Linked DNA regions of Homo sapiens. The protein of the gene in region 1 purifies or fractionates together with the protein of each later gene. This does not show direct contact. Each region holds a gene or a part of one and is shown in the gene's direction. Other genes may lie near its edges. The genes, in order: SNRNP200, ARID3A, U2AF2, CDC5L, USP9X, DDX23 and SNRPA1.

Region 1 (3,500 bases):
GTTCTGCTCTTGCCGGGTAGTTGGTTGGTGCATGTGTGGTACAGCCACTCTGTAGTATACATCTTGAGCACGTGGGAAAGGTAAGACCTTAAGAGGGAATGCTTCGAGGCTCCACGGGCCCTCAGAGAGACAGGAAGAGCCACAGCACGCAGTGTCTGCTTCCCAGCAGCAAAGTGATTTCCCACTGTTGCTGCACAGCTCATAAATAAATCCAAAAATGGCACAGGGTTTTATTAGCTGCTCTTCATCTTTACCTCTAAGAACAGGTCACTGGTACCCTCAACTCTTCCTAGAACTCTAAATGCTAAATGACTCAAAAGCTTTAAAATCATGCAGTGAATGTTAGGTTAAAATGTTGTGCAGTGACCTTGAGCCGCAGCACTCTTCTAATTGTTCCCCATCCGGCAAGCATCTACTATATGGAACGGAGAAAGGCGTAAAGACAGAGGGGACTTTGCCTTTGAGTTAGGGTGGGTGGTTGTGTCAGAGCTGGAGGTAATGAAACCGTGTGTAGAGTGGCTCATGAGGCCTGGGGATAGTCGAGACTTAACAGTGGGAATGCTGCTTCTTTGCTTAGTCGGCTGGCCGGTTGATGCGAGCGATATTTGAAATTGTCCTGAACCGAGGTTGGGCACAGCTTACAGACAAGACCCTGAACCTCTGCAAGATGATCGACAAACGCATGTAAGGACCCAGTGAGCTGGATGCTGGTCACCATGAGTGGGGGTCCCCAACCCAAGGGTCTGATGGGAAAGCCTCAGGGTGCATCTGATCTCCAGACCTGACATCGGAAGTATGACCTGAACCTTGGTGCACATTGAGAAGAGGGAAGGCCCTCTGTGGTGGAGGCCAGGGCTGGCACAGTGTCAGTGTCTGCCTTTAATGACTGTGTTTTGTGTAGTCACTGCTAAACTATTGGAAGCCATGAAGTGGGTGGTTTGTCACATCCCTGCAGAAGGGACCAACAGCTTTGCCTCCTTCCTGGATAGGTGGCAGTCCATGTGTCCTCTGCGCCAGTTCCGGAAACTCCCTGAGGAAGTAGTGAAGAAGATTGAGAAGAAGAATTTCCCCTTTGAGCGTCTGTACGACCTGAATCATAATGAGATTGGTGTGTGGGATGCTCTCGCCCTTGTCCTCACTGCCTGGGTGTCTCTCCCAGTTTGCCTATGTAGTCTTCCTGTTCCTAGGCCTGTGCATTAGTATCCTGTGTTCACTCCCCAAGTCCCACTGAAGTACAGGCTGGCCCTTGGTCTGGGGACTTGGAATCCTGGGCTCCACTGACCATAAAGGGAAGACCCTACCCCTTTCCCACAGTGGCCCTCAGGCCCAGTTTGCAGTATAGTAGGCAGGCTGGGCTGCAGCCTCAGTACTCTCATTTCCTTGTAGGGGAGCTTATCCGCATGCCAAAGATGGGGAAGACCATCCACAAATATGTCCATCTGTTTCCCAAGTTGGAGTTGTCAGTGCACCTGCAGCCTATCACACGCTCCACCCTGAAGGTGGAGCTGACCATCACGCCAGACTTCCAGTGGGATGAAAAGGTGAGGCTTTGCTGGGCAGAGGTGCTGGATTGGAGGTGCTCAGTCTACGTTGCTGGGCCGAGGAGATGGATTGGAGGCACTCAGTCTACGTTGACTCACATTCCTTTTACCCTTGCTCCTGTTGGCAGGTGCATGGTTCATCCGAGGCTTTTTGGATTCTGGTGGAGGATGTGGACAGCGAGGTGATTCTGCACCATGAGTATTTTCTCCTCAAGGCCAAGTACGCCCAGGACGAGCACCTCATTACATTCTTCGTGCCTGTCTTTGAACCGCTGCCCCCTCAGTACTTCATCCGAGTGGTGTCTGACCGCTGGCTCTGTGAGTGTCTCCTCTCCAGAGTCCCCAGGAACAGTCCCTCCAAGGACAGTAGAAGAATGTCTTGCACTTTGTCCCGGGCTTGCCCTTGCTGGGGACAGAGTGATACATATGCTGCCTAGGTTTCCAGTGTTCATGGAGGGGATCTAGAGGCCAGTGAGGGAAAGAGAGCAGTGCTTATATCCTTCCTGTTTCTTTTCTGGCAGCTTGTGAGACCCAGCTGCCTGTCTCCTTCCGGCACCTGATCTTGCCGGAGAAGTACCCCCCTCCAACCGAACTTTTGGACCTGCAGCCCTTGCCCGTGTCTGCTCTGAGAAACAGTGCCTTTGAGAGTCTTTACCAAGATAAATTTCCTTTCTTCAATCCCATCCAGACCCAGGGTAAGTGTTTCCATCCCTCCTCTGGAGGCTTTTGAAGTCACCGGGAGACAGATGTGCTCTGTGGCAGGCAGGGGAGTGGGGGTGCTCAGGCACTTGGGAGGTCTGGGAGCTCCTCAGTGTGACCGCTGGGACCCACCAGGACTTTTTCCTTTGTCAGAAGCCTTTGGTTGCTTTGCTGCTCTGCATGTGTCACTGTGGAGGGGCAATAGAGCAAGGCCTTACATGGCATGGTCATTTCTCGGGCCCAGGAGGCTTAGAGGCCTGCCCCTGGCGCTCAAGTATTGAACCAGAACCATGGGGTGGCACTGAAGCCTCCTCACCACATCATGATAAATAACGGGGACATTCACAGAGCAGGCACTGTTTCCTCAGTCCATGGCTGAGTACATCACCGGTGTTTTCTCTCTTATTCCTCCCATCAAGCCTAAAAGGAATCTCTATTGGAGATACTGCCATTAGTGTTCCTTTTATAGGTGAGGAACTGAGGCATAGAGGGTTCCCCAGTTGAACCAACTGATAAATAGTAGAACTTGGATTTTAATTCAGTCTTGATGCCAGGGATAAGGCTCTTACTTTCTACCTTAGGCTATTTCTAGGAAACGCAGGAGAGTGTTGAAGGGGCAGAGAAAGGGATCCAGTTCCTTTCTGTCCCGCATCCTAGTCCCTGAGAAGCAAAGAAGAATGTGTGGCTTCTTTTGCTTTGCTTTTGTTGTCATCCCACACATCTCCAGGGGACCTGGGCTCTTGATCTTGGCCTCTTCCCCTTTAACTGTTAAGTGGGAGCAGGTAAGGGGGTACAGTAGGGCTGGCCTGGAGTTAGAGGCTTGGATGCCTTAGCTCCTCTGTCTGCACTCCAGAACTGCCTGACTTCATTTCGTATGTTGTCCTTTGTTTTGACAATTGATCCATGTCCCAGTCCGTCTCTTCTTCCTTCTTGATACTTACACTGCTTCTTTCTGTTGGTTTCCAGTGTTTAACACTGTATACAACAGTGACGACAACGTGTTTGTGGGGGCCCCCACGGGCAGCGGGAAGACTATTTGTGCAGAGTTTGCCATCCTGCGAATGCTGCTGCAGAGCTCGGAGGGGCGCTGTGTGTACATCACCCCCATGGAGGCCCTGGCAGAGCAGGTATGACGTGGCGCTGTGTCATGTGAATTTCCCAAGAAGCATTTCATCTGTGATTCCGTATGAAGGCTTTCTAAGCCCTGAAATTTGCAGGGTCATTTCCTCAGTTTGTGTATTAAAGAAAAGCTGCCCCAGC
Region 2 (3,500 bases), on another chromosome or scaffold:
AGGCCCTGCCAGCTTGGGCACCACGGCACTGTTCCCCCGAAAGGCCCAGCCACCCCAGGCCTTCCGCGGCGATGGCGTTCCCAGGGTGCTGGGGGGCCAGGAGCGGCCGGGGCCTGGCCCTGCCCACCCCGGAGGGGCCGCCCACGTAGCCCCGCAGCTGCAGCCGCCTGACCACGGCGACTGGACTTACGAGGAGCAGTTTAAGCAGGTGAGTGGGCGCGTCCCGCGTGGCGGCTGAGGCACCTGCTCCTGGGCCAGTGGGGCCCTTTGAAGGCCCACGTTGCACGGGGTGTGTGCTGAGCCGGGCGTCGAGTTGAGAGCTGGGGGTTCCTGCGGTAGCTGTGCTTCCTGTGCTTCCCTCCTGGGCGTGGGCTCGACCAGCTGGCTGTTCATTGCTCTGATGTGGGATGTGTGAGGAGCACCCGGCCGGGTAGGAGAAACCTGGGGGGCTCCACGGCCCCCATATCGGAGGTGATGGGGCAGAGATGGAAAGGTGGGCCTGGGAGGGAGAGGCTGGCGCCGGCCCGAGCTGGGCTTGGGTTGGAGGAACCAGGCCTGCGGGCGATGCGGGCAGAGAGGCCGGGGCCTTGGTGACGTGGTGACTTGGCCTCCTCTGTCCCCTGGCATCTGTGGAGAGCCGTGGGGGGTTGCGGGCTGCAGCTGGCAGCCGAGGGGATGTGGGGGTGGCTCAGGTGTGGCTGCAGGAGACGCAGGAGCCAGGGCCTGTGAGGCTCCGAGTGGGCGGTTAAGGCTGGGGCCGGCAGGGGGTCTCAGGGACCCCAGGCTGAAGGAGGAAGTAGGGGCCGCCCCAGCCTTTCCCCGCAGGCGGCCAGGCCAGAGGAAGTGGCCGGGCGGGGGATGCTTTGAAGTTGGGCCGTGCTGGGCCGGGCAGATGGAAACCAGATGGTGGCCAGGCTCACATTCCAGCCCTCGTCCAGCTGGGCTCTGCCTCGACCTCTGGGCGCGGCTGGGGGGAGCCACCTCCTCGCCCGGGGCTGGAGCTGGTCTGGGCTCCCGCAGGGAGGTGGATGATGGACACGCTGGGACATGCCTGCCTCGGGGCAGCCCCTTCGGCCCTGGGCTTCCAGAATCCGCTCTGAGGAGCCTCCTAGGAGGGGCCAAGGCACAGACACCCAGGGGGGCCTCCCCGGGGCTCCTGACTCCAGGGGTGCCGGGTAGCTTAAGGGGCGGCCCTAACCCCAGCAGCCCTCAAGAGACTTAAGGTTGGGCTGCCTGGAAACTCACAAATAGTAAAGAGCTGAAAGCCGGACACGGTGTGGGAGAATGGCCAGGGCAGCGGCGGGGACTCGGTGGGGGGGGGGGGCGTCTCGCTGATTCCACCCTGCTCTGTGACTCAGTTTCCCACTCCTGCAGAAGGGGATGCTCCACGGGCCACACTGCCGCGCGTCCCATTCTGCCAGTGAGAAAACAGAGGCTCAGTGTTGGGAGGAGGGGTCTTGTGATCTTTTCTGGGTTTAAGATGATACGGATGAGCATGCTGAGAGTGGATTCTCTTTAATTTCATTAATTTAATTCACCAATTAATTTAACATTCACCCAATATTCGCCATCTGCCCGGGACTCAGCCCGCAGGGAGCCCTGGGCTGGAGGGGCGGGCAGGAGCCGGACGGAGACCTCCATCCCCGCAGGGTTATAGCCAAGCCGAGAGGGAGGGTCAAGGCCCCCCATTCAGTCGGTCCTTCGGGGGTCAGAGGTGAATGGGACCCCCTGACCCTGGACACACGCCCCGCCCAGACAGCCCCGGCCTCCAAGGCCCAAAGCCGATGGGGGAGTTTTGGGGTGACTGGCCCAGACCAGGCAGGGATGAGGGGCCAGGCGCCCTGACCCCACAGCCCGCAGCATGTCCTGAGCGAAGGCAGGAGGCAGAAGCCACTGTCTACCTTGTCTGGGCGACACCGCGGGTCAGGGTTGTAGGTGCCATGTGGGGTTTTTCTGCAGCGGGAAGCCGAGATGGGGAAACTGAGGCCAGTGCAGGGAGGGGGGTCACTGTGTCACCGGCAGCCTCAGGTATTCCTGGAGATCCTGCCGCCCCGCACCTGCCCCCTGGGTGTACCGGGCAGTGCAGAGGCCCTGAGGTGGACTAAAGCTCGGCTTGTGTGTAGGGACCGGGTGCCGCCTCTGGGTCTTGCGGGAGACGGGATTGGAACTCCGAGAAGATGAGGGCCTAGGGATGGTCGTGGGCAGCGGGGGTGGGGGGAGGCCCCCGCCCTGCAGTCCTGTGACTTTTTTTTCTCTAGAGAAGGGCTTTCACGGTGTTGCCCAGGTTGGTCTCAAACTCCTGGGCTCAAGTGATCTGCCTCACTCAGCTTCCCAAAGTGCTGGGATTACAGGCCTGAGCCACGGTGCCCAGCCAGTCCTGGGATCTTATCCTGGGCTGTTCGTGGCAGGTCCAGCCGCCGATGCCGCCGCCCGCCCAGCTGGCCAGACACCTGTGTTCCCAGTGTCAACAGTGGCCTGGGCCCAACCAGCCCAGTCAGTGTTACCTCCCGCCCGGCCCCTACTGGGGCCCCTGTTGACTCTGGCGCCTGCCCCACCCCCTTCCTGGCACGTGGCAGGCCTGGCCCGCTGGCCGGCCGCTTGGCACCGTCTCTGCCTCTTCCTCCCAGGTCCTGGCAGGGCTCGGGGCTAACTTCCGCCTGCAAATCCTCGACAGCTGTGAAATTCTGCTGTCGGCTGCAGGTCTGGTGGGTGGCCAGGCCGCGGCGGGGGGCCGGGCGCAGCAGGCTCAGGGCCACGGGTTCTTTCCTTGGACACCTGGAACCTTGCTGCCTGGGGCCTGGGGACGTGCAGTTTTGGAGGCCAGCACGTGTCGGGCAGTGATTAGGATCTCAGCCTCCTGATGTCTGACGTAGCCTCCTGGTGGCCTCCTGTCACCCACACAGCAGGCCCAGCTTCTAGAAAGCGGCCACGGTAGGATTTTATTGGATTATTATTATTTTTGAGGCAGGGTCTTACTCTGTCGGGTAGGCTGGAGTGTAGTGGTGCTGTCCTAACTCACTGCAGCCTCGATCTCCTGGGTTCAAGCGATCCTTCTGCCTCAGCCTCCTGAGTAGCTGCGAGTACAGACGGGCGCCACCAAACTCAGCTAATTTTTGTAGAGACGGGGTCTTGCTATGTTGCCCAGGCTGGTCTAGAACTCCTGGGCTCAGGTGATCTGCCCTCCTTGGCCTCCCAAAGTGCTGGGATTACAGGCGTGAGCCACCGCACCCCACCATGGTAGGATTTTATTTATATATTTGTTTATTTATTTTTTGAGACGGAGTCTCGCTCTGTCGCCCAGGCTGGAGTACAGTGGCGCGATCGCGGCTCACTGCAAGCTCTACCTCCCGGGTTCACGCCATTCTCCTGCCTCAGCCTCCCGAGTAGCTGGGACTACAGGCATCCGCCACCGCGCCCGGCTAATTTTTTGTATTTTTAGTAGAGACAAGGTTTCACCGTGTTAGCCAGGATGGTCTCGATCTCCTGACCTTGTGATCCGC
Region 3 (3,500 bases), on another chromosome or scaffold:
GGGTTTTGGTAAATTCAGCTAACCTTTTGGAGCCTGTAATATATGTTGACATGCTCCCAATCGACATGGACTTTTTACGTATGGGTGCGTTTCCCCGATCAAGCTGCAGAATGTCTTCCCCACGTCTCTTCCTGGTGAATCCACTGCGTTTTCATTCATTTTAAGTCCCATGAGTGGCCCGCCACTTGCTGGTGCTTAGTGTGTGTCAGGCGCTGTCCTAAGTGCCCTCCATGCACGGCAGTTCTACGACACAGGGATTGGCGCTGTCCTAAGTGCCCTCCATGGACGGCAGTTCTACGACACAGGGATTGGCGCTGTCCTAAGTGCCCTCCATGCACGGCAGTTCTACGACACAGGGATTGGCGCTGTCCTAAGTGCCCTCCATGGACGGCAGTTCTACGACACAGGGATTGGCGCTGTCCTAAGTGCCCTCCATGGACGGCAGTTCTACGACACAGGGATTGGCGCTGTCCTAAGTGCCCTCCATGGACGGCAGTTCTACGACACAGGGATTGGCGCTGTCCTAAGTGCCCTCCATGCACGGCAGTTCTACGACACAGGGATTGGCAGGTTACAACTGAGAGTCCAACGCTGGCCCACTGCCTGTTTTTTGTTTTTTTGTTGTGTTTTTTGAGACGGAGTCTTGCTGTGTTGCCCAGGCTGGAGTGCAGTGGTGTGATCTCGGCTCACTGCAACCTCCGCCTCCCAGGTTCAAGCGATTCTCCTGCCTCAGCCTCCCGAGTAGCTGGGATTACAGGCATGTGCCACCACACCTGCTAATTTTTTGTGTTTTTAGTAGAGATGGGGTTTCACCATGTTGGCCAGGCTGGTCTCAAACTCCTGACTTTGTGACCTGCCTTGGCCTCCCAAAGTGTTGGGATTATAGGCGTGAGCCACTGCTCCCGGCCACTGCCTGTTTTTGTAAGTAAAGATGGATGGCGGTGCAGCTGGCCTCACTGTGCAGCGCCTCCTTCCTGGGTAGGGACGTGTGGTGGGCCTTGGGGAATAGGAACCGTGGGTTATGGATCTAAGGTTGCTTCTCTTACCAGGCTGAGGAGCTTGACTCTTCTGAAGGTGATGGGGTGCTCTGGCAGGGGCTGAGCTGAGGGCAACCCAGTGATAGTGGCTGCCGAGCTCCTCTCAGGCGCCCCCTGCACCAAGATGGCCTGGTCACCATGGGAGGGGACATTGCTCCATCTTACAGATGAGGAAAGAGCTTCGGGACAATGGGGATCCCTGCTGGGTCTTCCCCACACAGCCTCTGCTCCAGGTGTGATGCTTTGTAGATGCAGCCGCTGCAGAGGTATGGGGCCCTGTTTCCCCGCCCAACTCTTGGAACATCCCTGCCAAGCAGGGCTTGTCCTCAGTGATGAGTGGAGGAACTCAAGACTCCGAGAAGATTCCTTTGAAGTTGTTGTCATGTAACAGCGGCTGACCCCACTGACAGTGCTCACAGTGTGTGTCTGGGCTGGGTGGGTCCTGTTGTGGGCATTGAGTCTGGCAGATGCCCGGGCCATGGGGACTGCCGTGCCTGTTCTCACGTCCTCGATTGAATCAGCACTTGGCCTGAGCTGTTCTCACACACGTGGCTCACACGATGGGCACCAGGGTTCTTCCCATTCTACAGATGAAGACACTGAGGCCCTTGGAGGCTCATATGGTACAAACAAGACTTGAACCCAAGGAGCCATGAACCCAGGGAGCCCAACTCTTGTATCCTTGGCTCTGTGTTGCTCAAGTGAGACGGGCAGAGCCAGGGCTCGCGGCTGAGCTTCCAGTGTGACCCATTCTTCCTTGGACCCAGGCAGAGCCTGCAGCCTGCCATGCTGCCTGTGGGGAGTCACAGCTGAGTGTGGGCTCTGGAGGCTGCCTTTTTCCTGCCTGTGTGTCTTTGCTCTGTGCCTCAGTTTTTGCCTTCTGTGCTGTATGTATAGCATTGCAGTAGGAGGTTGAAAGTCTTACAGGATGCCTGGCCCATGGGGTGAGTGCCCGGTGTGTGTTCCTGCTCCCGGGCTGCTGCTACTTGTCCCTGTAGCATAGGAGCTGGGTCTCCTGGGGTCTGTGTGGCCCCAGTCTGGTGGTTGGAGCTGGCTGGGTTGGTGCTTCCAGTTCTGTGGGGGCAGCGTCATCATGGGCTGGAAGGGCTTGAGTGAGTAGGTGGGAGAGGGTGTGTGGGGGCATCTCCCCTCCTTCCATGGGCACAGCGGCTCATGCTTCTGAGGCTCTTTCCCATTTCCTGTCTTACCTATTCCTTCCCAGCATCAGGATGGAGGTGGGATGGGGCCACTCACACTTGGTGTGGAGGCTGCAGAGGAAGGGGAGGCCATATGGCCTAGGTTTTGAACTTGGGAGTCAGGCTGGTTGGTTACCGGGGCCTGGCATAGCTGATATCTGACAGGACGGCGTCAAGTTACATTGGCAGAGCCTGTGGGGTCTCAGGTTGAATCATCCCACCAGCAGGCACTTGTCTGTGAGTCCAGAGTTCAGTGGATAGGGCAGGATCGAGGGCCAGTAAATTCAGCTGATAAGCCCCCACTCTGGTATGTCAGCCCTCGAAGACACTGGATCCTGCATCCCACAGTCAGCCCACAGTTCCCAGTGAGATCAGAGCAGCTAATGCTGCGGATGCTGTTCTGAGACTTCCCGGGCAGCCGCGGCTGCTCATCGTGTCGTGCCACCCCTGTGAGGGCAGTTGCACCCCTGCAGTGGCACCTGCAGTTCTGACAGGGCGTGAAGGGAAGGGACTGAGCTTTTTTTTTTTTTTCCTTTGAGATGGAGTCTCACTCTGTTGCTCAGGCTGGAGTGCAGTGGAGTGATCTCGGCTCACTGCAACCTCCGCCTCCTGGGTTCACGCCATTCTTCTGCCTCAGCCTCCTGAGTAGCTGGGACTACAGGTGCACGCTACCACAGCCCGCTAATTTTTGTGTTTTTAGAGAGACGGGGTTTCACCATGTTGGACAGGATGGTCTTATCTCTTGACCTTGTGATCTGCCCGCCTTGGCCTCCCAAAGTGCTGAGATTACAGGCGTGAGCCCCCGCGCCCGGCCGGGACTGAGCTTTAATGGGAGCCTTGCCTGGGTGGCTGTCAGAGAAGGGGTGGGGTGTGTTGTGACTCACCAGTAGGTCCCGAGCCCAGGTGACCTGCCAGCATTCCACAGCAGCAGGTAGCAGATGTGGGTGTGAACTTTGTGCCTTTGGAGCGTTCTGGAGGATGTTCTAGTTTGAGGTTCCCCTGAGGCTGGGCAGATTTGGGAGACATGGTGCGTTCTCCCCGAGGAGCCTCTGTGTGCCACTGCCCAGGACCCTCACTGGTCAGATAAGGCTGGGGTGGGGTGGGCACGTGGCGACCCCTCCCTCGTCAGATCAGGCAGGAAGTGTTCTCTTTGGCAATTGAGGAGCTCGCCGTAGACTGTCCAGGTTTTGGGAGATAACCTGGTACTGGAATTGAAGTCCTCCTCTTCTCTACCCATAGGGGTTGTGTCCACTGTGGTCCCCGACTC
Region 4 (3,500 bases), on another chromosome or scaffold:
GTACATTTGTAATAATGACAGTGATAGTGATGTGAGAACCAACAGCTTGATAGGGAGGGAGGAGACAAATATACACAAAACTCAAAGAGTCATCTGGGGTCATTGAGTGTGGTGGCCCACCTCCCTGCCCACTGCATGTTCTTAGTCGCCCTAATGTGCCAAGAAAAGGTTGAAATAATGTTTAGTGGACGTAGTTTAGGAAGGCAAGAAAATATCAAATGTAGTGATTATTGTAAGTCAGTAAAATAAAAATACCATGCTAGCTAGACCAAACATTGATTTTAACCTAGAGATCCTAACAAAACCAGCTGGACAGAATTTTGAAATCTTTATTCTTTTTTTTTTCTATATTTCCTGTGAAATAATTTATGTGAAAAACATTTGAAAGCACAATCCAAATGTAAGTGGCACTTCTGTTAATTGGGATTCCTGTCTTTCTAGGACTCCTTCTAATGGAGCTGAAGGGCTGACTCCCCGGAGTGGAACAACTCCCAAACCAGTTATTAACTCTACTCCGGGTAGAACTCCTCTTCGAGACAAGTTAAACATTAATCCCGAGGATGGAATGGCAGACTATAGTGATCCCTCTTACGTGAAGCAGATGGTAAATGTCAATTCCCTTTTAATACTCTTAAATTTTTTTTTAATATCTCATGGATGCCAAATTAAAATTTCTCCTGTTAGTGCATATCACATATACCTTAAGAATCTATACACCTGTGGATGCCAGAAAAAGAATTATTTGTAAGACTTGATGAAAGGGAATATTTTGGGCTCAAAACCCACCTTTCTTTATGCTTACTAGGTTTGTGAATATTGATGTTCGTTGTTGATTTCACTGAAGTTTTCTTTAGCAAGCTGAGGTAGAAAGCTAACTGTAAAAAGTTAAGTTTTGCTTCTGCCCGTGTTACTGCGTTTATTACTTTGCTATTGGGCCTTATTATCTAATGCCACAGAAATCATTGTGAAATTAAAAAAAAAACTTCTAATGATACTGGCTTGTCTTCAGTTTAAAATTAATTCTAACCTCATGTATATATTTGGTTGATTTATATATGTTTTTTAAAGTTCAAATTGATATCAACTAAAGCCAACTCTGAATGGATACATAAGAATTAAATAGATTAAGAACCTCATGCATGCAGAGCATGCATTTGGACATTTGAGGGGATCTAAAGTTGAATAAAGATGTCCTTTGTCCTAAGGAAATTTATATTCTGGGGAGATTGACAGTACTAAACTAAGTCCAAAAATAATTGCAATATCAGAACAGAATAAGCCCTTTGAGTAAAACCAGTGTGCTTAGGGTAGTTAAAGAAGGGAATAGTCACATTTGTTGGGTAACAGGAAAGCCTTATTAGAGGAGCTATGTTCTGAAGGAGGGTGGGGGCTGTCTCAGATGGAGACTACAATATGAGTAAGCATGGAGGATGTTTTAGATATAGCAACTCATCTGTTCCTCACACCTGGTACATGTAAGCACTGAGGATGGATGGGAAAACTCTGGGTACCAGGAGGCTTTTTTGGGAACCAGGACTCTACTTTCTTTCTTCTGCATGGGATTTAGTATTTCCATTAAAAATAAACACATACATACAAATTCAAGTATCTTTTAGAGTGGATTTTATTAGTCCAAGGACAAACTAACTTTTGAACCTGTTCTTTTCATTTGCTGTTAACTTTCGGTGTCAGAAATGTGTTCCCTCAAAGTGGTCTTTTTTTCTGCCCTGGCCTCAGACCTCCTGTTGGAATATCCCAGAGTATCTTCAGTGATCACAAGTGAAAGTTTTTGGTTGGTCTTAATGTTGGGAAGAAGGGGGGATAGAAAATAAACATAAGACTTGTCTTAGCTCTGAAGTCAGGATTATTTTTCTAGAATTAATATTAGGCTGATTTTTTTTGAGACTTTTTTTCTCTTTCTGTAATTTTTAATTTTTGTGGATACATAGTAGGTGTGTATATTTATGGGGTACATGAGATATCTTGATACAGGCATGCATGTGTAATAATCATATCGTGGAAAATGGGGTATTCATCCCCTCAAGCATTTAACCTTTGTGTTTGAAACCATCCAATTATTCTTAGTTATTTTAAAATGTACAGTTATTTTGACTAGAGTCACCCTGTTGTGCTATCAATTTTTAAGAGACTCATAAAATACTGGTGGAATGTTTAATATGCATGAATTGAGAAGGACCACTTCTTTTCTACAGGAAAGAGAATCCCGAGAACATCTCCGTTTAGGGTTGTTGGGCCTTCCTGCCCCTAAGAATGATTTTGAAATTGTTCTACCAGAAAATGCCGAGAAGGAGCTGGAAGAACGTGAAATAGATGATACTTACATTGAAGATGCTGCTGATGTGGATGCTCGAAAGCAGGTGGGTAACTGTACTGAAAGAAGCGTGAGTTTGGCTGAATGTGTCAGTAGGCTGGAAGAATGAAGAATAGCCATTAAATGTCCCAAGATCTCTACCTAGTCCTTTTTAATATTGAAAAAACTTCTAAAGTAAATAACTTATGTCATTAATAATGTATCCTCACATAATTAACATACTCACAATATTTTGATGAGCATTCTTAAAAATATATATATGGAAATTTAAATACATTCTGTCAAATTCATTATGCTTCTCTAAAATACACATAGGTAGTCTTTTAGACATTGCTTCAATCTAGCAAAGAAAAGATGTTATTGGTTAGTCTTAAAAACAAATACATCTTGGTTCCTGGGTGGTGCGATGTACGAGCCTGTAGTCTCAGCTGCTCGAGAGGCTGAGGTGGGAGGATTCTTTGGGCCCAGGAGTTTGAATCCAGTCCGGGGAACATAGTAAGACCTCTATCTAAACTGGAGTTGGAAATTTAGATAGAGTGTGTCAAAATAATATTAGTAACACTTTGTACTAATATATCTTATACGTAATTACTTTCTCATTTGCACGTAACAGCACAGTGATATAAATAGGATCGGTATTACAGGTTGAACATTGCTAATCCAAAAATCCAACACCTGAAATGCTCCAAAATTCAAAACTTTTTGAGTGCCGACATGAAGCTCAAAAGAAATGCTCATTGAAGCTTTTTGGATTAGAGTTAGTATAATGCAGATGTTCCAGAATCTGAAAAAATCAGAAATCCAAGATACTCTGGGCCCAGATATTTCTAGTAAGGAATACTCAACAAGCTCAGATGAATTGAGGTCTCATGGTCTCAACTTTCTCAGGTCTCATGGTGGGTAAGTGGTGAATCCTAAACTAGAACTGATATTTTATGACCCCTTTCAGTAGCTGCAGTCCATTGCTGGATGATTTTAGGGACCTTGAATCTCAGGGGATTGGAGTGAGAATGACATCAGTGGAAACAATATTTTAGAGGGGACCCATGTAAATGTGCTTTTCAGTGGGGAACAGAGGATGATACTTTTTGTGTTTAGTTCTCAGCTACTTTGAGTTACATTTACTCCTTCAGAAATGGCATGAAATTTTAATGTGTTATCCCACATT
Region 5 (3,500 bases), on another chromosome or scaffold:
TTGAATATGATTTTTATTTTGTATTTTACTTTAAAAAAGGTACTATACCAATATAAATAGCATTTTGGAGTGAATTTTGATATGAAGGCTTTTTTCCAGAAAAAAAATAAAGTGCATTGTGGCATTTTTGTTGATGCTTTTAACAAAATGTAAAACGACCTTTTAAATGTAAAAGGTAAACTCTACCTTCTTTTTTTGAATTTTTTTTTTTATTAATACAAGGTCTACCTATGTTGTCGAGGCTGGTCTTGAACTCCTGGGCTCAAGGGATCTTCTTTGCTTGGCCTCCCAAAGTGGTAGGATTACAGGCATGAGCCACTGCGTCCAGCCAACCTTTTACATTTAAAAATAGTCTTAGTGAGTTGGGCTTTTACAGCATAAAAATAAGCGTTATATCTTGGATTTAATTTCATTTTAGTAGACACCTCATTTTCTGCAACCATAGATACAAGACTAACAACAATAGAATATGATTATGTTTTTAAATATTATTTATATTTTTAGTTAAAAGGAGCAATATTTTTTTTTCTTTTGCATTTCACTCTTGTTGCCCAGGCTGGAGTGCAGTGGTGCAGTCTCGGATCACTGCAACCTTTGCCTCCCAGGTTCAAGCGATTCTCCAGCCTCAGCCTCCCAAGTAGCTGGGATTACAGGCGCCCACCACCAAGCCTGGCTTATTTTCTGTATTTTTAGTAGAGATGGAGTTTTACCATGTTGGCCAGGCTGATCTCGAACTACTGACCTCAAGTGATCCACCCGCCTCGGCCTCCCAAAGTGCTGGGATTATAGGCATGAGGCACCATGCCTGGCCTTATTTTCAAGATACTGAAAGTAATACAGGTTGAGTATCCCTAATCCAAGAAATCCAAAATTTGTCTGGTCCCAGACATTTCATATAAGGGATTCTCAAGCTGTATTAAGTATCTTTAATTCACATCCTCTTGTTTAATAAGAAAATACTTAGTGTTAAATCCCCAGCATTATTTTCTTGGCAACAAAATTTCAGAGTCTGCTGAATATGATGATGTCTGTCTTTCTTTTTCCCCCCAGAGCATTCCGCGGTAAACACCTCTCTTTTGTAGTTCGATTTCCAAACCAGGGCAGACAGGTTGATGACTTGGAGGTATGGTCTCATACAAATGATACAATTGGTTCAGTACGACGATGTATTCTCAATCGTATTAAAGCCAACGTAGCCCATACAAAAATTGAGCTCTTTGTGGGCGGTGAGCTGATAGATCCTGCAGATGATAGAAAGTTGATTGGACAATTAAACTTAAAAGATAAATCGGTATGTATGTATAGTTAACAGATTTTTCAATAAAATCAAACCAGAGACTATCGTTTAATCAGTAAATACTAATTGAGCATTTGTTATGTTTGGGACTGTGTTAGGTGTTAGAGTTATAGCATTAAAGTATAGCATGTAGTCTTTCGGATTTTTTGGTTGGTATATCACTAAGTTTTGTGTTTTGTGTAAGTATTTTTCCTTGTTTTTGATATTAACATAGTATATAATTTTCAGCTTATTACAGCCAAACTTACACAGATAAGTTCCAATATGCCTTCAAGCCCTGATAGCTCTTCTGATTCCTCCACTGGATCTCCTGGAAACCATGGTAATCATTACAGTGATGGTCCCAATCCAGAAGTGGAAAGCTGTTTGCCTGGAGTGGTGAGTAGATACAGTTTTGAACTACTGTATGTAAGGCATCATGCTAGGGTTTTTGAGAATAAAGTATATAGAGTGGTTCTTTCTTTTCTTGAGGAGCTTACAGTTTAATGAGACAAAAAAATACAGTTAACCACCAACTTCAGAATGGATCCCTCTAAAAGGTAATTGTAACACAGTTGGAATTTAAAACATAATTTCCCCATAGGTATAGTATTGTTACTTTTACATAAAATTAACCAATTAGAGCTTAATTATAACACTATTGGATGTATAAATTTAGAGGAAAACAGTCATCCCTCGTATACGTGGAGAATTGGTTCCAGGACCTCTGCATATACCCAAAATGCTGCAGATGACCCTGTGCAACCAGATATACAAAAAGTTAGCCTTCCATATACTTGGGTTTTGCTTGCTGGAAATACTGAATTTTCTGTCCACATTTGATTGGGAAAAAAGTCTGCATGTAAATGGACCTGTGCAGTTCAAACTTGTGTTGTTCAAGAGTCAGCTGTATCACTTTCTAAAATTTATACCACAAAACGGATAGTTCTTTTAGAACTATATATGAGCTGGGCATGGTGGCTCACACCTGTAATTCCAGCTACTGGGGAGGCTGTGAGGCAGGAGGATTGCTTGAGCCCAGGAGTTCTAGGCTGCAGTGAGCTGCGATTGTGCCATTATGCTCTAGCCTGGTCAACAGAGTGAGACCCCATCTCTAAAAATATAAATAAATGAAAACAAGAACTATGTAGGAAAATACCTGTAATCTTTATCAGATTGTCAGTAACATATAGCCAAAGAAATATTTTTAAGCTCTCCTTTCGCCCCTCCCGACAGAAATTTTAATGGTTACAATAGTAGCAGCCACTCCAGTGTCAGGAGGATTTGGCTCTCTATAACAACTGGATTAAGAATTTGGTAGTGGGCATGGCAGCCTTTTGTTATGTCCAGAGTCTAAATTGTATATATGAGAGAAATGGTTTAATAGAACAGGAGAGGAGCTATCACAAAAAAATGACTGGAAGTGACTTGATGATGTATTTGATCTGCACTATTAAGGATTTGTAGGGATTAAAAGATGGGAAAGTCAGACTATTTCAAAGAGTAGAAATTTCATAAGTAAAAGTATAGGGATTAACACAGAGAAACTTACTTGGGCTTTTATAAAACGGGAGTAAATAATTTAGAGGTAATTATTTTGTGTATTTTATATTCTAGATAATGTCACTGCATCCCAGATACATCTCTTTTCTTTGGCAAGTTGCAGACTTAGGTAGCAGCCTAAATATGCCACCCCTTAGAGATGGAGCAAGAGTACTTATGAAACTTATGCCGCCAGGTAAGAATTTTTAAATGATGATCAAGTACTTGCTGGACAATAAAGGAGTATATTAGCAAATTCTGTTTCTAAATGGACCGTGCTTTTTGGTATAGACTATAACAAGAGTTGACAGATGACAGCCCACAAGCCACATCAAGCCCCCTGCTTGTTTTTGTGCATCCCAAGAGCTATATTTTTAAGTGGCTACAAAAAAAAAATCTAGAAGAATAATATTTTGTGATACATGAAAATTATATGAAGTTTAAATTTTAGTGTCCATGATCAAAACCAGGCTCATTTGTTTACATTCAGTCTACATGACTGCTTTTGTCTTAAAATAGCACCGCCCAGGAGTTGTGGCAGAGGCCATATGGTTCACAAGCCTAAACTGCTTAACTTTCCTGGCCCTTTACAGAAAATGTTTGCCTATACCTGGACTATAATATGGGTCATGTGTCATCTGCGGTATTGTTCCTTTTTTATCCTTAGAAACAACCACTTCCA
Region 6 (3,500 bases), on another chromosome or scaffold:
ATCTAAAGATAGAAAGCGGCATCGTTCAAGGGATAGACGTCGAGGAGGCAGCCGTTCTCGCTCTCGTTCCCGTTCCAAATCTGCAGAAAGGTAAAGTAACTTTGTATGTTATTACATGGGAAGGGAGAGTACGTTTCAGATTTCTTCCTTCTTGGTTCTTCTGATGCCTCCAGTATTAGGCATCTACTTTTTATTTTTATTTTTTGAGACAGAGTCTCGCTCTGTTTGTTACCCAGACTGGAGTGCAGTGGTGCGATCTCAGCTCACTGCAAGCTCCGCCTCGCAGGTTCACGCCATTCTCCTGCCTCTGCCTCCTGAGTGCGTAGCTGGGACTACAGGCGCCCGACACCATGCCCGGCTAATGTTTTTGTATTTTTAGTAGAGATGAGGTTTCACCGTGTTAGCCAGGATGGTCTCGATCTCCTGACGTGATCTGCCTGCTTCAGCCTCCCCAAGTGCTGAGATTATAGGCGTGAGCCACCGCGCCTGGCCTTTTTTTTTTTTTTTTTAAAAGATGGAGTTTCACTCTTGTTTCCCAGGCTGGAGTGCAATGGCACGATCTCGGCTCACTGCAACCTCTGCCTCCCAGGTTCAAGCAATTCTCCTGCCTCAGCCTCCCGAATAGCTGGGATTACAGGCATGTGCCACCACACCTGGCTAATTTTGTACTTTTAGTAGAGACGGGGTTTCTCCACGTTGGTCAGGCTGATCTCAATCTTCCGACCTCAGGTGATCCACCCACCTCAGCTTCCCAAAGTGCTGGGATTACGGGCGTGAGCCACCACGCCCGGCTAGGCATCTACTTTTTGTACATTAATCTACTCCTAGCCCAGTTGGACCTGCAGGTGTTTTCAGTTTTCCTCAGTGACCCAACTCTTAAAAGTTGAGAGGGGGCCGGGCGCGGTTGGTTCACGCCTGTAATCCCAGCACTTTGGGAGGCCGAGGCAGGTGGATCACGAGGTCAGGAGATCGAGACCATCCTGGCTAACACAGTGATACCTGATCTCTACTAAAAATAAAAAAAAAAAAAGTTGAGAGGGAACTAGTAAGGTGAAGGTCCGGGTTATCAAGGAAGGTTCATCTGTGGCCGGGCGCGGTGGCTCATACCTATAATCCCAGCACTTTGGGAGGCCGAGGTAGGTGGATTACTTGAGGTGAGGAGTTTGAGAGCAGCCTGGCCAACATGGCAAAACCCCGTCTCTACTAAAAATACAAAAATTAGCCAGGCATGGTGGTGCACATCTGTAATCCCAGCTACTCGGGAGGCTGAGGCATGACAATTCCTTGAACTCGGGAGGCAGAGGCTGCAGTGAGCCGAGATCACACCACTGCACTCCAGCCTGGGCGTGAGAGTGAGACTCCATCTCAAAAAAATAAAAAAGGAAGGTTCATCTGTTCACATAGTCCGTGACCTGTCATTGCCGTTAATATTTAACAGTACATCTCTGATCTATAAAAGCTTCTTAGAATTCCCTCGTTATTTCCGTGAGAGATACATTCTCTAATTTGTAAAACATTACTTTGGGACGAGAGTATAGGAACTTTCTCAGGGCTGCAGTGAAGCAAGATACTTTGGAAATACCAAGTGAACTCTTAAATTTGCGGTCTTCCAGAGAACGACGGCACAAAGAACGAGAACGAGATAAGGAGCGGGATCGGAATAAGAAGGACCGAGATCGAGACAAGGATGGGCACAGACGGGACAAGGACCGTAAACGATCCAGGTACATGAAGGAATGAGAGGGGGCTTTAGGGGAATGCTCCCATTTCTTCTCTGCACCTGAGTTTGCTCAGCTTCTTATGAAAGTAGATTTCTCGCCAGGCGTGGTGGCTCACGCCTGTAATCCCAGCACTTTGGGAGGCTGAGGCTGGTGGATCACGAAGTCAGGAGATCGAGACCATCCTGGCTAACATGGTGAAACCCCGTCTCTACTAAATATACAAAAAATTAGCCGGGCGTGGTGGCGGGTGCCTGTAGTCCCAGCTACTCAGGAGGCTGAGGTAGGAGAATGGCGTGAACCCGGGAGGCGGAGCCTGCAGTGAGTCGAGATCACGCCACTGCACTCCAGCCTGGGCGACAGAGCAAGACTCTGTCTCAAAAAAAAAAAAAAAAAAAGAAAGAAAGAAAGTAGATTTCTCTTAACAGATTCTGTTGGTAGTTATTACAGAGCTCTCTTTCTTATTTATTTTTATTTATTTTTTTGAGGCAGGGTCTCTTTTGCCCAGGCTGGAGTGCAGTGGTGTGATCACAACTTACTGCAGCCTTGACTCCCCCAGGCTTAGGTGATCCACCCACCTCAGCCTCCTGAGTAGCTGGACTACAGGCATCTGCCACCAGATTTTGTTTTTTTTGGGTTTTTTTTTTTTTAATTGATCATTCTTGGGTGTTTCTTGCAGAGGGGGATTTGGCAGGGTCACAGGACAATAGTGGAGGGAAGGTCAGCAGATAAACAAGTGAACAAAGGTCTCTGGTTTTCCTAGGCAGAGGACCCTGCGGCCTTCCGCAGTGTTTGTGTCCCTGGGTACTTGAGATTAGGGAGTGGTGATGACTCTTAACGAGCATGCTGCCTTCAAGCATCTGTTTAACAAAGCACATCTTGCACCACCCTTAATCCATTCAACCCTGAGTGGACACAGCACATGTTTCAGAGAGCACAGGGTTGGGGGTAAGGTCACAGATCAACAGGATCCCAAGGCAGAAGAATTTTTCTTAGTACAGAACAAAATGAAAAGTCTCCCATGTCTACCTCTTTCTACACAGACACGGCAACCATCCGATTTCTCAATCTTTTCCCCACCTTTCCCGCCTTTCTATTCCACAAAACCGCCACTGTCATCATGGTCCGTTCTCAATGAGCTGTTGAGTACACCTCCCAGACGGGGTGGTGGGCGGGCAGAGGGGCTCCTCACTTCCCAGTAGGGGCGGCCGGGCAGAGGCGCCCCTCACCTCCTGGACGGGGCGGCTGGCCGGGCGGGGGGCTGACCCCCCCACCTCCCTCCCGGACGGGGCGGCTGGCCGGGCAGAGGGGCTCCTCACTTCCCAGTAGGGGCGGCCGGGCAGAGGCGCCCCTCACCTCCTGGACGGGGCGGCTGGCCGGGCGGGGGGCTGACCCCCCCACCTCCCTCCCGGACGGGGCGGCTGGCCGGGCGGGGGGCTGACCCCCCCACCTTCCTCCCGGACGGGGTGGCTGGCCGGGCGGGGGGCTGACCCCCCTACCTCCCTCCCGGATGGGGCGGCTGGCCGGGCGGGGGGCTGACCTCCCCCACCTCCTTCCCGGACGGGGCGGCTGACTGGGCAGAGAGGCTCCTCACTTCCCAGTAGGGGCGGCCGGGCAGAGGCGCCCCTCACCTCCCGGACAGGGCGGCTGGCCGGGCCGGGGGCTGACCCCCCCACCTCCCTCCCGGATGGGCGGCTGGCCGGGTGGGGGGATGACCCCCCCACCTCCCTCCTGGACGGGGCGGCTGGCCGGGTGGGGAGCTAACCCCCCCCACCTCCCTCC
Region 7 (4,176 bases), on another chromosome or scaffold:
GCAAGCCACAGAGTGTGTTCATATCCCTAATATATAAAGAAATTCCACAAATCAATAAGAAAAAAGGCAGACAACTCCATAAGGAAAAAAAAAAAATGAGCCAGGGACTCGAAAGAACACTTAACCAAGGAAGCTATCAGAATGGGCACCATACACATGAGAAGGTTCTCAGCTTCATTAGTTATTAGAGAAAAGCAAAGCAAAGCAGTAGTGCAATACCACCACACACCCATCAGAATAGCTGAAGTTATAGAGTTAAAATGCCAAGAAGGCTGAAGCTGGAAGCCATGAAAACCCTTACACACCGCTGGAGTGTGTATATTATTTCAGCCTCTTAGCATAACTGTTGGGCATTACTTATTGATGATAGATATACCCTATGTCCCAGCAGTCCCACTCCAGGACAAACTCATGCAAACGTGCATCAGAACCACGTACCAGAAAATTCATAGTAGCATTACTCAGAATAGCCCTAACTGAAAACAACTTTGATGTCTATCAACAGCAGAATAAGTAATTTATGGTATAATATATACAATGGAATTCTCTTCAGCAGCAAAAGCAAACAAACCATCTCTGTATGCAACCTGGATGGACTCCAGACATAATATAGACTCCATGAAACTAGGCCAAAAAAAAAAGCATACTGCATGATTCTATTTATAGCAAAAGCAAGCAAACCGAATTTGTAGTGTTGAGTTCGCGGTTGCCTTTTGGGAAAGAGGGAGGCTTTCAGAATAGCGGTGTTTTGGATCCCGGTGTCGGCTACGCAGCTGTGTTCACTCTGGTCATTAATCACTGTAAATTCCTGATATGCACACTTTTATGTATATCACATTTCATACATATGAATATTCAGAAGTCTAAAGGTCACAAGCTTAACCGCAAACCCTACCGTGCCCGAGGCCGGGCTGGACTTGCGGGGCGGTGGGGTTGTCCCGGCGACCTGCCCCAGGCGGGCCACCTAGCCCGGGATCTCACACTGTAGCCCGGAGCCAAGGCCCAGGCCCGGGGCGGGCACCTGAACTGCTGGACCCTTCACTGAACCCCACGGGTTCCCGCGACGGCTGGTGGAGGGAGGACAGTCACCGCTTCCCCTCCCACCTCGAGGTGCGCTAATGCATGAGAAAGTTCCCCTCGGGTGTTTCCACATTCGCCTTAACTTTTAAACACCAACGTCTGGAATCAGGGGTCCTCCAGACTCCGAAACACACCCTAGGAAACAACCCAGAACGAGACACATCCCCTGTGCGCGCGCCACGACTTCCGGCAAGAACGCCCCCGGAGGCGTGGCTCTTCGATTGCTTCGGCCTGGCGGTCGAGCTGCGCGCGCACTCGGCGGCTGCGATTGGTGCTGCCTGGCGGCGGGGCGCGGGGCACGCTGGGACGTCTCGCTGGCGGGAGGCCACGGGCTTTCCACAGCGCGGGGGAACGGGAGGCTGCAGGATGGTCAAGCTGACGGCGGAGCTGATCGAGCAGGCGGCGCAGTACACCAACGCGGTGCGCGACCGGGAGCTGGACCTCCGGGGTGAGTCCGGGGGCGTGGGCGGCCAGTCCCCAGGCGGCACCGAGCCGCCTTATTTTCCGCGCTTTGCCGCGTGCACCGAAGGCCGGAGCTTGGCCCGCGGGCCGGTTGTCTGGGCTCCGACCGGGCTGCGCAGGGAACGCCGGGCCTGATTCTTGCCGTTGTTGCCAGATGAGCATCCGGTTAAGCTCCTGGGAGCCTTCTGTTAGCGCCGTGCCTCTTGACAGGCACGGGTGACTTCATTACTTCCTGGTGCGTCCTCGTGGGGCCCTGTTAGGCCTTGCTTGGCTGTTTCGCCGCTGGCTGTTTGAGGGCCCGGAAGAGCGGCTCATTAATGGTTGTAACGCAAGTGCAGGGCGCGGGATTGGTTCTTAATACTTGCCGCCAGATGATATTTTGAGCGTAGATAGGATATGTGTTCATTATTCCTAATGTGAGGGAGGAAACTAAGTCCCCGAACAACCGCGATTGTTTCCTCCAGTATTTTCTACTTAGTAGCTTTAATTGTCTGGCGTTTCCCCTATATGAAGACGTTTTAAAAATTGAACTGTGTCACCCAGGCTTGCACCGCCGGGTGCTGTGTGTAAGTTGTGGAAGCGCTCGCAATTATTCAGATTCCTGTACTATTTCAACCTTAGCAAGACTTGGTAAGATACTGGGAGGGCAGCTAGCTAGTTGGCATTTCAGGAGACGGCTTTAAAAGGGACGTGATAGAGCAACTTCTCTGAGGATAAGACCATGCTGTCGTAGCCTGAGATTTGTTCCCATGGGGACCTATGGCCTCGGAGCAGCATCGCTGCGGGATCTGCTTAGATTTCTTGCCGACCTTTGGGAAATCCCACTGTTTTGTGTTGTGTTGTGTTGAGATGGAGTCTCGCTCTTTCCGCCCCAGCTGGAGCGCAGTGGCGTGATCTCGGCTCACTGCAACCGCCGCCTCCCCGGTTCAGGTGATTCCTGTGTCTCAAGCCTCCCGAGTAGCTGGGAATACAGGCATGCGCCACCACGCCCGGCTAATTTTTTGTATTTTTAGTAAAGACATGGTTTCTCCATGTTGGTCAGGCTGGTCTCGAACTCCCGACCTCAGGTGATCCGCCCGCCTTGGTCTCCCGAAGTGCTGGGATTACAGGCTTGAGCCACTGCGCCCGGCCCAACTCACCACTTTTGATGATCTCTGCCATTTCTCTTTATGGAGCATGTGCAGTGTTGAGAATACGTATTTTGATGCAGTACGTGTAGTACAGCTCTGAATTGTGTCCTTTAACTTTGGGTAAGTTCTTTTTTTAGTAGACCTTGCTTCTTCGGAATATTTCTTTTCTTATAGTGCCTAACACAATAATTATGCCCAAATTAGACAAATTAACATTTGAGTGTTCACAGATTTATTACTGTATTTAAACCATTGATCTTCAATTCTGAATTGGAGCTGGGGGAGGGGAGGGAGAACTGTCGTGATATGTTGAGGCTGTTCTGATGGGTTCTAAGAATCTGGCCTGTGGAGATGCAAGAGTGGAGAACTGTCGTCCACAATGTTTGAACGCCGTTTGGGCACTGAGACTAAGCAGCTCCAAGTGTAAACTCCTGTTGTGCCGATTCCGCTTAACTAGCCCAAACGACTTAGGACAGTGTGAGGCACCTTGTAAATGTTCTTATAAATGTTAGCTGCCTATATCAGCCATTGTTATTGTCCTTGTCCTTGTTGTCATCAGATTCTAAGCTTCATGGCACTGGGGACTTGAGACTCGTTCAGCGTTTTCTCTCTAGTATCTTAAACAGCGGCAAGTCATGCGTGACCCGACATAGGTGCTAGGTAATACTTCCTGAATAAATCAAAGCCTGGAGTCAGATACTATGAAATACAGCTAATGCTTTAAGGGGCAACTGTTTAGTTATATTAATACCTCTTGTGTTTTTTTCCTCCATTTTATAGGGTATAAAATTCCCGTCATTGAAAATCTAGGTGCTACGTTAGACCAGTTTGATGCTATTGATTTTTCTGACAATGAGATCAGGAAACTGGATGGTTTTCCTTTGTTGAGAAGACTGAAAACATTGTTAGTGAACAACAACAGAATATGGTACGTGTCTGTAGGGGAAAGTAATTTTTTCCCCTAGAGTAAATGTTGCAGTGTTTCCTGAAGAAGTTGTAGCACGTGCTACTGGTTAAACCTACATGTTTCTTTTTCTTTTTCTTTTTCTTTTTTATTTATATTTTGAAAAAATATTTTTTCCATAATGGAAGCCACATTCAATACATGTTTTTTCTTAAAATGAGAAATGAACTTCACTTTTCCTATAGAGATCCAGAGATTAACCTGGCATTAGTCTAGTCTTACTTGTATCTGTTCAGAAATCATGTATTTTTATTTTCATGGTTAAGTTTCTAAATAAAAACATGTTGCTTTGTATACATTTTGGCTTCTAAAACAATTATCAAAGGGGTCATAGTAAAAGGATATATAAAGGTAACAATTATACTTTTGACTGAGCGTCTCTGCTTTTTTTTTTTTTTAACTGCAACTAATTTCTAGACTGTTACTTATTGAAATTGAGATCTTTTTTGACCCTGCCTTCATCAGCTCTGTGTAAACTTTATTGGAAAAAAAGCACTTGGTGTATAGATAATGTCTTTAAAGGTACTGGGTGGTGAGTGG

What was found.
Region 2: the proteins of SNRNP200 (region 1) and ARID3A purify together in Homo sapiens (affinity purification with mass spectrometry; 2 studies listed by BioGRID, with this or other methods). This does not show direct contact.
Region 3: the proteins of SNRNP200 (region 1) and U2AF2 fractionate together in Homo sapiens (co-fractionation; 3 studies listed by BioGRID, with this or other methods). This does not show direct contact.
Region 4: the proteins of SNRNP200 (region 1) and CDC5L fractionate together in Homo sapiens (co-fractionation; 4 studies listed by BioGRID and IntAct, with this or other methods). This does not show direct contact.
Region 5: the proteins of SNRNP200 (region 1) and USP9X fractionate together in Homo sapiens (co-fractionation; 2 studies listed by BioGRID). This does not show direct contact.
Region 6: the proteins of SNRNP200 (region 1) and DDX23 purify together in Homo sapiens (affinity purification with mass spectrometry; 5 studies listed by BioGRID and IntAct, with this or other methods). This does not show direct contact.
Region 7: the proteins of SNRNP200 (region 1) and SNRPA1 fractionate together in Homo sapiens (co-fractionation; 3 studies listed by BioGRID). This does not show direct contact.

What each region holds. Positions count from the first base shown.
Region 1 is NC_000002.12:96,285,047-96,288,546, reverse strand, and holds part of SNRNP200 (U5 small nuclear ribonucleoprotein 200 kDa helicase), read left to right. Parts: intron 1-577; coding exon 578-684; intron 685-989; coding exon 990-1,108; intron 1,109-1,386; coding exon 1,387-1,541; intron 1,542-1,669; coding exon 1,670-1,859; intron 1,860-2,062; coding exon 2,063-2,236; intron 2,237-3,206; coding exon 3,207-3,367; intron 3,368-3,500. UniProt on the Homo sapiens protein: Catalyzes the ATP-dependent unwinding of U4/U6 RNA duplices, an essential step in the assembly of a catalytically active spliceosome. Plays a role in pre-mRNA splicing as a core component of precatalytic, catalytic and postcatalytic spliceosomal complexes.
Region 2 is NC_000019.10:932,535-936,034, forward strand, and holds part of ARID3A (AT-rich interactive domain-containing protein 3A), read left to right. Parts: coding exon 1-208; intron 209-3,500. UniProt on the Homo sapiens protein: Transcription factor which may be involved in the control of cell cycle progression by the RB1/E2F1 pathway and in B-cell differentiation.
Region 3 is NC_000019.10:55,665,035-55,668,534, forward strand, and holds part of U2AF2 (splicing factor U2AF 65 kDa subunit), read left to right. Parts: intron 1-3,472; coding exon 3,473-3,500. UniProt on the Homo sapiens protein: Plays a role in pre-mRNA splicing and 3'-end processing. By recruiting PRPF19 and the PRP19C/Prp19 complex/NTC/Nineteen complex to the RNA polymerase II C-terminal domain (CTD), and thereby pre-mRNA, may couple transcription to splicing.
Region 4 is NC_000006.12:44,422,206-44,425,705, forward strand, and holds part of CDC5L (cell division cycle 5-like protein), read left to right. Parts: intron 1-441; coding exon 442-604; intron 605-2,213; coding exon 2,214-2,378; intron 2,379-3,500.
Region 5 is NC_000023.11:41,168,945-41,172,444, forward strand, and holds part of USP9X (ubiquitin carboxyl-terminal hydrolase 9X), read left to right. Parts: intron 1-1,050; coding exon 1,051-1,291; intron 1,292-1,525; coding exon 1,526-1,675; intron 1,676-2,893; coding exon 2,894-3,014; intron 3,015-3,500.
Region 6 is NC_000012.12:48,842,164-48,845,663, reverse strand, and holds part of DDX23 (probable ATP-dependent RNA helicase DDX23), read left to right. Parts: coding exon 1-90; intron 91-1,613; coding exon 1,614-1,724; intron 1,725-3,500. UniProt on the Homo sapiens protein: Involved in pre-mRNA splicing and its phosphorylated form (by SRPK2) is required for spliceosomal B complex formation.
Region 7 is NC_000015.10:101,292,449-101,296,624, reverse strand, and holds the start of SNRPA1 (U2 small nuclear ribonucleoprotein A'), read left to right. Parts: upstream 1-1,376; 5' UTR 1,377-1,446; coding exon 1,447-1,528; intron 1,529-3,452; coding exon 3,453-3,600; intron 3,601-4,176. UniProt on the Homo sapiens protein: Involved in pre-mRNA splicing as component of the spliceosome. Associated with sn-RNP U2, where it contributes to the binding of stem loop IV of U2 snRNA.